3 linked regions of the Homo sapiens genome follow. The protein of the gene in region 3 interacts with the protein of the main gene of each other region in a pairwise test. Each region holds a gene or a part of one and is shown on either strand. Other genes may lie near its edges.

Region 1 (3,647 bases), on a different chromosome or scaffold from region 3:
CAGATATTAGAAGATCTCTAGAACCAGAGGCTTGGGCGAAGAGTAAGGTCAGAGCCTGGAGAGAGGCTGGGTGGGGCTCTGATCAAGCAGGTAGGTCCAGTTGGGGGCAAGGGAGAGGCTCCACATGACCCCAAGTTCTGAATCCTAGGATTGTCCTCAGGTACTATTCCCAGGAAAGAGGCCCTACAACTTCCAAGTTGCCAAGAGCCACAGGGAAGATGTCTTACCTCTGTTTTCTTGGGTGGTTTCTTGGCTGGGTAGATGTTTTTGGAGGTAAGAGGTCGGGGTGGGGGTGTTGGCCATGGTTTATCCTCTTTTTACCTCCAGAGAGTTGGAGAGAGTCTTCTAGTTGGGCAGCTTTTTTTTTTTCCCCCTGAAAAGGCCTGAATCAGAAACACAGCCAGTAGGCCAAGTGCAATGGCTCACACCTGTAATCTCAACATTTTGGGAGACCAAGGTGGATCACTTGAGCCCAGGACTTTGAGACCAGCCTGGGCAAGATGGCAAGACCATGTTTCTATAGAAATTAGCTGAGCATGGTAGTGTGCACCTATAATCTCAGCTACTAGGGAGGCTGAGGTGGGAGCATTGCTTGAGCCCAGGAGGTGGAAGCTGCAGTGAACTATGATTGTGCCACTGCAGGGGAGAAGGGAAGGGAGGAAAGGAGGAGACAGGCAGATAGCTACATTGTGCATTGCCCAGACAACTACTTCCTCATCACCATCCTCTGCCCAGTAGGGGCCCAGTGAGGGTCACTCTGCAGCACAGACTGGCCTTCTGGAAGAACAGTGCCTTTCTCCTCCCTGACTTTGGCACACCTTCCTCCTGCCTGCTGTGGCTGCCACAGGTCAGAGCCTGCTGCTGTCTTTTGCTGAGCTCCAGGGAGAGCGAGGTCCTCGTGTTCATGAAGGAGGCCGTGCAGCCCCTGCTTTGAGCTTTGGCCATCTGAAATGCTGCCTAGCAGCCCAAGGCCTGGGCAACCAATCCACACCCCTGAGTGGCTCCTAGCATGTGTGACTGTCACTCTGACTGCAGCAACACCTGTCCTACCTGTTCCACACCCTTGTGTTCATAGTACTGAGGCACCTCTCCCGCATGGCCCCCTAACCCCCTGCTCTGTTCTGTGACAGACACCCAAGGACAATGCTGCTACTCTACAACCATCTGATGACACCGTGTTACCTGGCGGTGTCCCTTCCCCTGGTGCCAGTCTCACTAGCATGGCGGCATCTCAGGTTCGTGCCTCCTCCCCCTCTGCCCACTGCCCTCCTGTACCTATTATGCATTATCTTCTCCTTTCACAGGCAGCTTGTTCCCTAGGGTCAAGGGCCCTTCCTGGGGACCGGGCCGGGGGAAGGCTCAGACTGGGCTTTTTTCCTTGAGGCCTGGGGAGATTGAAGATTGTTAGAATGAGTTTGGGAGCTTGACTCACCCCATCCTGGGTGATTCTTACCAGAAATTGAATGACCATCTCACACGTTTCTTCCCAAACAGAATCATGATGCTGACAATGTCCCTAATCTCATGGATGAAACCAAGTGAGTGTCTCCTGTTGGGGCAGCAGTCTCTAGGCTGAGAGAGTCAGGGAGGCCACTGCCCATGACCTTCTTTCCCATTGAGCCACCTGCACCCCTGACCCCTGTGTCTCCATCCCTAGGACTTTCTCATCAACCGAGAGCCTGCGACAACTCTCCCAACAGCTCAATGGTCTTGTTTGTGAGGTACCTCAGGAACTGAGGCCGAGAGCGGGGTGGGGGGAAGGGAACTATGATAGAAACTGAAGCAGGGATTCACAAGAGAGAGGGAAGATCCTGGGACCAGCCAATGTGCTGGGCAATGTTAAGGAAGTCGCCTTTTCCCTGAGCCTTCTCCCTTGAAGTTGTGCACATGAAGGAGTTGGACCCCATGACTGGTTGCATCATTGTATCCTGCTGCAGAAGCACTGGATGAGAGCTGCTCGGGAGGAAAGGATGGTGGGGAAATAAGAACCATGAGAGAAGTTGGCACAAAGGGGTTACGGGACAGAGGGTCCAAGTTAGAAAAGAAAATGTTGCCAATTGCTGGGGAAGAAACGAAGTTAGAGGGCTTAGACACTGAGGGGACAGAACATCTCCATGTGCACTCTCGTCTCTTATAGTCTGCGACATGTGTCAATGGGGAGGGCCCTGCATCGTCTGCTAACCTGAAGGATCTGGAGGTAAGAGGCCCTGGGCCGTGGCCCAGTGACCCTGCAGGCCAGCCCTCCAACCTCCTCCCACAGCGGGGGCTGGGTGCCCCTCTGCCAGCTGAGACAGCCCACACACCCCCCAACCCTAATGATTGCTCTCTCTACCTCTCCCCCCAATCCTCCTCCAACTCCTCCTCTCTGCATGCGCCTCAGAGCCGGTACCAACAGCTAGCGGTAGCCCTGGACTCCAGCTATGTAACAAACAAACAACTCAATATCACGATAGAGAAATTGGTAAGAGTCCAGTGGGGTCCCCTGATTCCATGCTGCTAATCCTGGGCTCCAGTTTCCCCTTGGGACCCTGAAGAAAGGGGCAGGGGGCCCCTGGTGCCAAGGGCGAATGGGGAGCTGGGGGGCCCAGGCCTCAGCTGGAGGGACCCCAGAGCACGGAGCATGCAGCATGGCTCTTCTGTTGCTGCCCTCTTTGCCTACTCTCTCTTCTCTAGACACCCCTGCTCGAGTCCTTGCCACACACGCCCTGGGGTTGTTGCCTCTTGGGGAAGCGCTAGCCTGACTGGTTGTCAGGAGCCCTGTATTTCTGCCCTGACTCAGTCCTTAATTTGCTCTTTGATTTGGGACAAGCCACCTCTCCTCCTTGGGCTTGCATTTCCTGAGGAGGTAGAGTTAGAGAGTATCAAAGGTCTCTTAGCTCTGAGAGTCCAAGATTTAAAGGCCCATTAGAATGTAAACCTCAGGGCCAAGGGCTCCTGTCTGTCTTTTTCTGTCTGGTATCCCTGCTATTAAGAACCGTACCTGGCCTGTGTGTGCTCAGCAAATGTTTGTTGAATGATTACACCTTTCTAAATCACAAACTGGCAGAGGGTGGGCTTTTCTCACACTCCATCTCTAGAGGTTTATGTTACTGTCCTTTCAAGAGAATCGAGATTCAGACTTTCAGTTCTGTGGCTGTGGGCAAAAACCAACAAAGACACAAATCCCCTTTCCTTGAGAGCCTGAGGAGAGTTTACCAGTTCGTGTTCCCATTGGGTCTGAGAACTTTGCCTTTAAAATCCATTCCTGGCCCCTGCCTACCCGTTCCTGGTCTGGGGAATAGAGTTGAGGGGGCCACCCTCAGTCACCTTCCTTTGACTCTTCCCCACAGAAACAACAGAACCAAGAAATTACGGATCAGTTGGAAGAAGTAACGTGATTTCTTTGTTTGCTCACAACATGACTGCTGGGTTTGGGGGGCATTCAAATGTAGAGGCCTCAGTCTCGTCTCACCCACTCCCAGCCTGGGGAAGAAGGCTCACCCCCCCAGATTCCACCCCATCCCCACAGGGTCCCTGATAACCTGGTCCCATGGGTGGGCCTGTCCTGGGACATTGGTGGCATTCTGGGGGCATGTCCCTTGCTGTGCCGTCTCTGCCTCCCCCTCGTAAGAGCTCTGTCTTCCTCTTCCTATAGGAAAAGAAAGAAT
Region 2 (3,647 bases), 6.1 Mb from region 3:
CCGCTGCCCCTGTCTGGAATTCCCTGCCTCCTCAACATCAGCAACCACTAACATCATATGACAATTATTTATCACGTTTTGGGTACTGCCCCCCTCCAATGAATGAAGCCCTGCTCTCTAAATATGGGAACGTGTTCGCCATTTTGTTCCCAGAACCAGGAACGTGGCCTGGTGCAAAGCACGGGCTCAGCAAATGCTTGTTTTTTTTTTTGTTTTTATTTTGTTCAGTTTTGTTTGAACAAGGTCTTGTTGTCATGCAGACTAGAGTGCAGTGGTGTGATAATGGCTCACTGCAGCCTTGATCTCCCAGGCTCAACCTGCCTCAACCCCAAGTAGCTGGGACTACAGGTGCACACAAACCACCAAGCCTGGCTTTTTTTTTTTTTTTTTTTTTTTGAGACGGAGTCGCCCAGGCTGGAGTGCAGTGGCGTGATCTTGGCTCACTGCAACCTCTGCCTCCCGTGTTCAAGCAATTTTCCTGCCTCAGCCTCCTTAGTAGCTGGGATTACAGGCACGCGCCACCACGCCTGGGTAATTTTGTATTTTTAATAGAGACGGGGTTTCTCCATGTTGGCTGGTCTTGAACTCCTGACCTCAAGTGATCCACCCACCTTGGCCTCCCAAAGTGCTGGGATTACAGGCATGAGCCACTGCACCAGGGCCCCTTCTAGATGTTTCTTTGTTCCACCCATAACCTTGCCCCAGGATCACTGCCAAGGCCCTCTTAGCTCTGTCTCCAGCCCAGCATGCCCTCCTGAGCCCCAGCTTGGTGTCTACCTGCTTCCCGCTCACCCCAGCCCCAGATGTCACTCCCCAGGCACTCCTCTTTCTCCTTATAACAGTGCCTCATCTCCTCAGGCTCCTGGTCCCCGCCTCACTCCCTGTCTCCCTCAGACCTCCATCTGGGCCCCATCGGATTGTACAGGCCTCTCCTGAGACCCCTGCGTGGCTCCACCATCACCTCTCCTGAACCTCAGTGGAGGCTGCTCTATCCAGAGCCACTAATCAAACCCTGAAACCCTGAAACGTGCCACCACCTTCAATTGCTGACCCTCTCCAATCCAGGCACAGCTGCCACCAGGGAGGCCTGTGAAGCCCATGCATTTGACCACGTGACCAGAGTCCTCCCCACTACATCTTGGGGGGTCTGAATTCAGATGGGACTTCTGATCCTGGCATCCTGGTCCTGGGTCCCAGGCAGATACTGGCCCTCATCGTTCCCCGAAAGTACGGGCTCTGTCTTGCCTCTTGGCCTCTGCATGTGCGGTTCCCTTACCTGCTTTTGCACCCAAAACTCAGCTTCAACAGAGCCTTCCCCAAATGCTCCCTGCCTGAGGCACCACTGATCCCTAAAGGACCTCCTGTGACCATCTGACGATGTGGTGAGGGTGCTGGAGGACAGCCTTGGGGCAACGGCCCCTGGGTCCTAGCCCACAGCCACCATGTACCGGCTGGGTATCCCGGGCCATCCCCTAACCTCCTGTAACCTCAGTTTCCTCATCTGTCAAACAGTCAACAATGCTGACTGCACAAGCTCATATTGGAAGAAACTAAGGAGATGATTAGAGTAAAATGTCCCGAGCCATGTGGGCCCTCAGCACGCACCCTTCCTGTACTGGCCAGGGTCATTACCATCTGTGCAAGAGAACAATCTCTCTCTCTCTCTGGGGACCACTCTGGGGCCTCAAAAAGGAAATGTCCTTCAAATGCTTAGTTTAATTTCTGGCCCAGAGTACACGCTCAATAACTGGGAGTGGTTGTTACTACATGGTCACAGCACCCGGCTGTGCCACTGACGGGAGATGGAACTTTGGCCATGTCACTGAAACCTTTCCCAGCCTTGGTCTTCCCCTCTGTGAAATGGAGTCTCACAGGATCGCCGTGAGAACTGAATGACTAACTCTATGGAAAATGCTTCCAAAACAGCCCTCAGTAGGTGTGTCCCACTGTTACCATCTCCGTCCTTGTCACTGCCACCTGAATGGTCTGCTGACTCATTCCTGTGCCTTATCTGAGGCTGTGTCCCCAGGTTCTAAGGCAGGGCCAGGCAGAGCTGGCCCCTACTCTAATACCCCAGGGGACTGACACAGCCAGCCTGAGCCTCGGATTCCCCTATATGTATAAGGGGTCAAGAAGGCCTACGTGGTCGAGCGTGGTGGCTCACTCCTGTAATCCCAACACTTTGGGAGGCCGAAGCGGGTGGATCACCTGAGGTCAGGAGTTTGAAACCAGCCTGGCCAACATGGTGAAACCCCGTCTCTCCTAAGAACACAAAAATTAGCCAGGCGTGGTGGCAGGCGCCTGCAATCCCAGCTACTCCAGAGGCTGAGGCAGAATCGCTTGAACCCGAGGCAGAAGTTGTAGTGAGCTGAGATCGCCCCACTGCACTCCAGCCTGGGCGACAGAGCATGACCCTGTCTGAAAAAAAAAAAAAAAAAAAAAAAAAGCTATACCTCATGAGATAAACAGCAGCTGCAGGCTGGGCACAGTGACCCATGCCTATAATCCTAGCACTTTGGGAGGCCGAGGTGGGAGGATCACTTGAGCTCAGGAATTTGAGACCAGCCTAGGCAACATAGTGAGATTCCATCTCTTAAAAAAAAAAAGTTGCTGGGTGTGGTGGCTCATGCCTGTAATCCCAACACTTTGGGAGGCCAGGCGGGCAGATCATGAGGTCAGGAGTTCGGGACCAGCCTGGCCAACATGGTGAAACCCCATCTCTACTTAAAAAATACAAAAATTAGCCGGGCATGGTGGCGCGCACCTGTAGTCCCAGCTACTCGGGAGGCTGAGGCAGGAGAATTGCTTGAACCTGGGAGGTGGAGGTTACAGTGAGCCGAGATGGCACCACTGCACTCCTGTCTGGGCAACAGAGTGAGACTCCGTCTTAAAAAAAAAAAAAAAAAAAAAAAAAGCAGCTGTGGCCTCTCCAACTCCCTTTCTCCACGATGGGCCTGTGTCACCCTGGAGCCTGCCCACCACCCTGCAATCCGCTGCTGGGCTGCCACCAGTCTCCCCTGTGTCCTCTGAACAACTGCCAGGGAGGCCGCAGCTAAAAAAGGCCTCTTGGAGTTGGCGGGGGCGGCAGCCTGCCCAGCCTGGGCTTTACACCTCCTATCGGGGAGGGGCTGTAGCAGGCTGGGCAGGGGAGAAGCCACCCCAGCAAGCAGGGCCCACAGATGTCACTACCCTCCTGCCTTACAGTTAGGGAAACTGAGGCTCACAGAATCTCAATGTCATACAACTCATTAGAAGAAACCACTAACAGCAGCTGTCTCTGGGCAGGAGAGCCGGCGAGCTGGGGCTGAGAAAAGGGATTCATTTGTCCGCTTCTGGAAACTTTGAAATTTTTTTTTTTAAGAGACAAGGTCTTAGGCCAGGCTTGGTGGCTCACACCTACAATCCCAGCACTTTGTGAGGCTGAGGCAGGTGGATTGCCTGAGCTCAGCAGTTTGAGACCAGCCTGGGCAACATGGTGAAACCCTGTCTCTACCAAAAAGTACAAAAATCAACCAGGCATGGTGGTGTGTACCTGTGGTCCCAGCTACTCAGGAGGCAGAAGTAGGAGGATCACTTGAGCCCGGAAGGTGGAAGTTGCAGTGAGCTGAGATGGCGCCACTGCCATCTCAGGGTGACAAAGCAAGGCC
Region 3 (3,647 bases):
CTGCATCGGATGGGCTGATGGACGCCCAACAGAGGCATGAGTTCAAAGCCCCCAGAGGGCTGCAATGAGCAAAGTTGACATTGTAGAGACCCGTGGGACTCACAACCTGCCCTCTTCAGCAGATAAACCACAAGGAAACGAGAGGCCTGGCATGCAGGGGACTCGGCACAGTTCCAAAGCAGCGTCCCGGGGCATGTGGGAGAAACGCCTAGCTCCAGGCCCACCCCGCCTGCTTGCGGGCCCAGCATCGCTTTCACAGGGCTTCCAGGGGATCCCCAACCGCTCAGCATTGAGAACCGGTCGCTGCTCTAGATTAAGAGGCTCAAAGGACATATCGGATAGTATGGACTTTGGATCCGAATTACCAAATCGGAACAAAACACACAACTTTAAATCAGACAAGCAGAAATCTCAACACTGGATATTCCTTGATACTTAGTAAATTTGGTTTGTGTATTATTGCATTATGGTTGTTTGTTTGAGACAGAGTCCCGCTTTCTCCCTCACTACAGCCTCAACCTCCCCAGCTCAAGTGATCCTCCCACCTCAGCCTCCCAGAGAGCTGGGACTACGGGCACACACCACTATGCTAAACTTAAACTAGTTTTCTTGTATTTTTTAATAGAGATGGAGTCTTGCTATGTTGCCCAGGCTGGTCATGAACTCCTGGGCTCAAGCGACCCACCCTGCCTCAGCTTCCCAAAGTGCTGGGATTACAGGAATGAACCACCACACCTGGCTTTAACATCACTTTTTAGAAATAAACACTGAAAAATTTGTTATGTAAAATGTTTAAAGCAGGGGGCGGTGGCTCACGCCTATAATCCCAGCACTTTGGGAGGCCGAGGCAGGTGGATCACCTGTGGTCGGGAGTTCAAGACCAGCCTGACCAACATGGAGAAACCCTGTCTCTACTAAAGATATGAAAAATTAGCTGGGCATGGTGGTTCGCACCTGTAATCACAGCTACTCAGGAAGGTGAGGTAAGAGAATCACTTGAACCCAGGAGGCGGAGGTTGCAGTGAGCTGAGATTGCACCATTGCACCCCAGCCTGGGCAACAAGAGTGAAACTCAGTCTCAAAAGAAAAAAAAAAGTTTATGAATAGATCACCATAAAGGACTGCATATAGTATAATGCCATTTCTATAAAGAAATACGTGGCCAGGCATGGTGGCTCGCACCTGTAATCCCAAAAATTAGCTGGGCATGGTGGCAGGCACCTGTAATCCCAGCTACTTGAGAGGCTGAGGTAGAAGAATCGCTTGATCCCAGGAAGCGAAGGCTGCAGTGAGCTGAGATCACACCACTGCATTCCAGCCTGGGCAACAAGAGCAAAACTCCGTCAAAAAAAAATTTTAAAAAAAAGAAATACGCATACTATGGTTCATACAAGAGTCTGAAGGAGTATATATATCAGCTTGGTAATAGTTACCTCTGAAATTAAGGAGAACTTGCAGGTTACACATCTCTGCAACAAGATTTTCAGAAAACAGCCACGTAATTTTTGGTAATCAGATTTTAAAAAGTTTTTTTGAGACGGAGTCTTGCTCGTCACCCGAGCTGGAGTGCAGTGGCACGATCTCAGCTCACTACAACCTCCACCTCCCAGGTTCAAGCGACTCTCCTGCCTCAGCCTCCTGAGTAGCTGGGACTACAGGCGCCCGTCACCATCCTGGCTAATTTTTGTATTTTTAGTAGAGATGGGGCTTCACCACGTTGGCCGGGCTGGTCTCAAACGCCTGACCTCAAGTGATCCACCCATCACAGCCTCCCAAAGCACCAGGTGTGAGCCACGGCACCTGGCTGGTAATCAGATAAAAATTCTTAGAGGGTAAAAAAAGAGGTGAGGGTGATTGCTGAGGAGAACAGCTGGGCCGCCTCTGGCCCCATCTCGGGGATGTCTCAGGAGGCTCAGGGAAAGGGACAGGACCCCTCCCATGGGAGAAAACAGTGCCACGAACAGTAGGTCCCTTTAGTCTGAGGTCACACAGCCCAGGCGGGGCTGGCTGCAAGGTGCAGGAGCTCAGCACCCCACCCTGTACCAGCTTTTGCCACAGGGTGGCAGGAAATGAGGCTCCCTCCACAGGGACAGGTGATGGCCCCACTGCATCCCTGCAGCCCTGGGCTGAGCGCTGGAGCCCAGGCCCCGGCCCATATCCCTTCGGCCCGGCCTCTGGGAGCTGCCGCTCCCCTACTGCCCTGCCCCTGCCCATGGGGAGCTGCGCTCACCTCTTTGGCTTCCTCCAGGGTGTGGTAGTGGAAGGAGTCCGCGTCCAGGGAGCGCAGGAGGGAGGCGTGCAGGTGCCGGCTGGCCTGGATGAACTGCTGCGTCAGGCTCAGCTGCTGCTTCAGCACATCATGGAGTGCCAGCACGGCCGGGCTGTAAGCGGTCAGGGCTGACCCAGCTCCGCGTTACTCGGTGGCTTCGCTGGGGCCCCACAAATTCTGCAGCCCCCCCCCCACCGCTCAGGTGCCAGGCTGCTCTCTGAAATCTTTTTTTTTTTTTCTGGAGACAGGGTCTCGCTCTGCCACCCAGGCTGGAGTACAGCGGTGCCATCACAGCGCACTGCAGCCTCGAACTCCTGGGTTTAAGCAACAGTGGCTCACACCTGTAATCCTAGCACTTTGGAAGGCTGAGGCAGGCGGATCACAAGATCAGGAGTTCGAGATCAGGAGTTTGAGACCAGCCTGGCCAACATAGTGAAACCCCATCTCTACTAAAAAAACAAAAAAAAAAATTAGCCAGGTGTAGTGGCAGACACCTGTAGTCCCAGCTACTTGGGAGGCTGAGGCAGGAGAATCGCTTGAACCTGGGAGGCAGATGTTGCAGTGAGCCAAGATCACACCACTGCACTCCAGCCTGGGTGACAGGGCAAGACTCCGTCTCAAAAAAAAAAAATTAAAAAATTGAAAAGGGAAAAAAATAGTAGGTACCAGATGGACCCCTACGTGTATCACAAGCCTTTATTGGCTCCACTGGACTCGACAAAGACTAAACTCTCTAAGATGGCTGCTGGGGCCCCTCCCTCATGCCTCAGGCTGGACTGGAGCCTTTGTGAGGGCCACACAGACTCAGCCCAGGAGGCAAGGGAATGTCTACCCAGGCTGTGCAACTCAGCATCAGTCAAATACATGTCTTCAGGGGAAATAAACTATGGCTTATTGATGTAATGCCACCAAGGGGAACATACAAAACAAAAGTGGTCTTGTGCCAGGCAGGGCGGCTCAGGCCTGTGATCCCAGAACTTTGGGAGACCGAGGTGGGCAGATCATTTGAGGTCAGGAGTTCGAGACCAGCCTGGCCAACATGGAGAAACCCTGTCTGTACTAAAAATACAAAAATTAGCCGGGCGTGGTGGCAGGTGCCTGTAATCCCAGCTACTCGGGAGGCTGAGGCAGGAGAATCGCTTGAACCCAGGAGGCAGAGGTCCCAGTGAGTGGAGATCGCGCCACTGCACTCCAGCCCGGGCAACAGAGCGAGACTGTCTCAAAACGAACAAACAAAAAAAGTGGCCTTGTTGGGGTGCAGGGCACAGAAGCATCACTCTTCACCCTCTTGTTTTGTGTGACATTGGTGTCTCTTTGCAAGAGACAGAAGGTTCAAGGGCATCCACACCTTTTCTCTCCTCATGGCAGGTGCCTGTGG

Evidence for each region.
Region 1: the proteins of C19orf44 (region 3) and GOLGA2 interact in binary tests that used the Homo sapiens proteins (3 or more experiments, as listed by UniProt).
Region 2: the proteins of C19orf44 (region 3) and CDC37 interact in a two-hybrid assay, tested with the Homo sapiens proteins (one large-scale study listed by BioGRID and IntAct).

What each region holds. Positions count from the first base shown.
Region 1 is NC_000009.12:128,266,008-128,269,654, reverse strand, and holds part of GOLGA2 (golgin subfamily A member 2), read left to right. Parts: intron 1-1,130; coding exon 1,131-1,235; intron 1,236-1,494; coding exon 1,495-1,538; intron 1,539-1,657; coding exon 1,658-1,721; intron 1,722-2,137; coding exon 2,138-2,197; intron 2,198-2,380; coding exon 2,381-2,461; intron 2,462-3,329; coding exon 3,330-3,368; intron 3,369-3,634; coding exon 3,635-3,647. UniProt on the Homo sapiens protein: Peripheral membrane component of the cis-Golgi stack that acts as a membrane skeleton that maintains the structure of the Golgi apparatus, and as a vesicle thether that facilitates vesicle fusion to the Golgi membrane.
Region 2 is NC_000019.10:10,397,043-10,400,689, forward strand, and holds part of CDC37 (hsp90 co-chaperone Cdc37), read right to left. Parts: intron 1-3,647. UniProt on the Homo sapiens protein: Co-chaperone that binds to numerous kinases and promotes their interaction with the Hsp90 complex, resulting in stabilization and promotion of their activity. Inhibits HSP90AA1 ATPase activity.
Region 3 is NC_000019.10:16,513,247-16,516,893, reverse strand, and holds part of C19orf44 (uncharacterized protein C19orf44), read right to left. Parts: intron 2,398-3,647; coding exon 2,231-2,397; intron 1-2,230.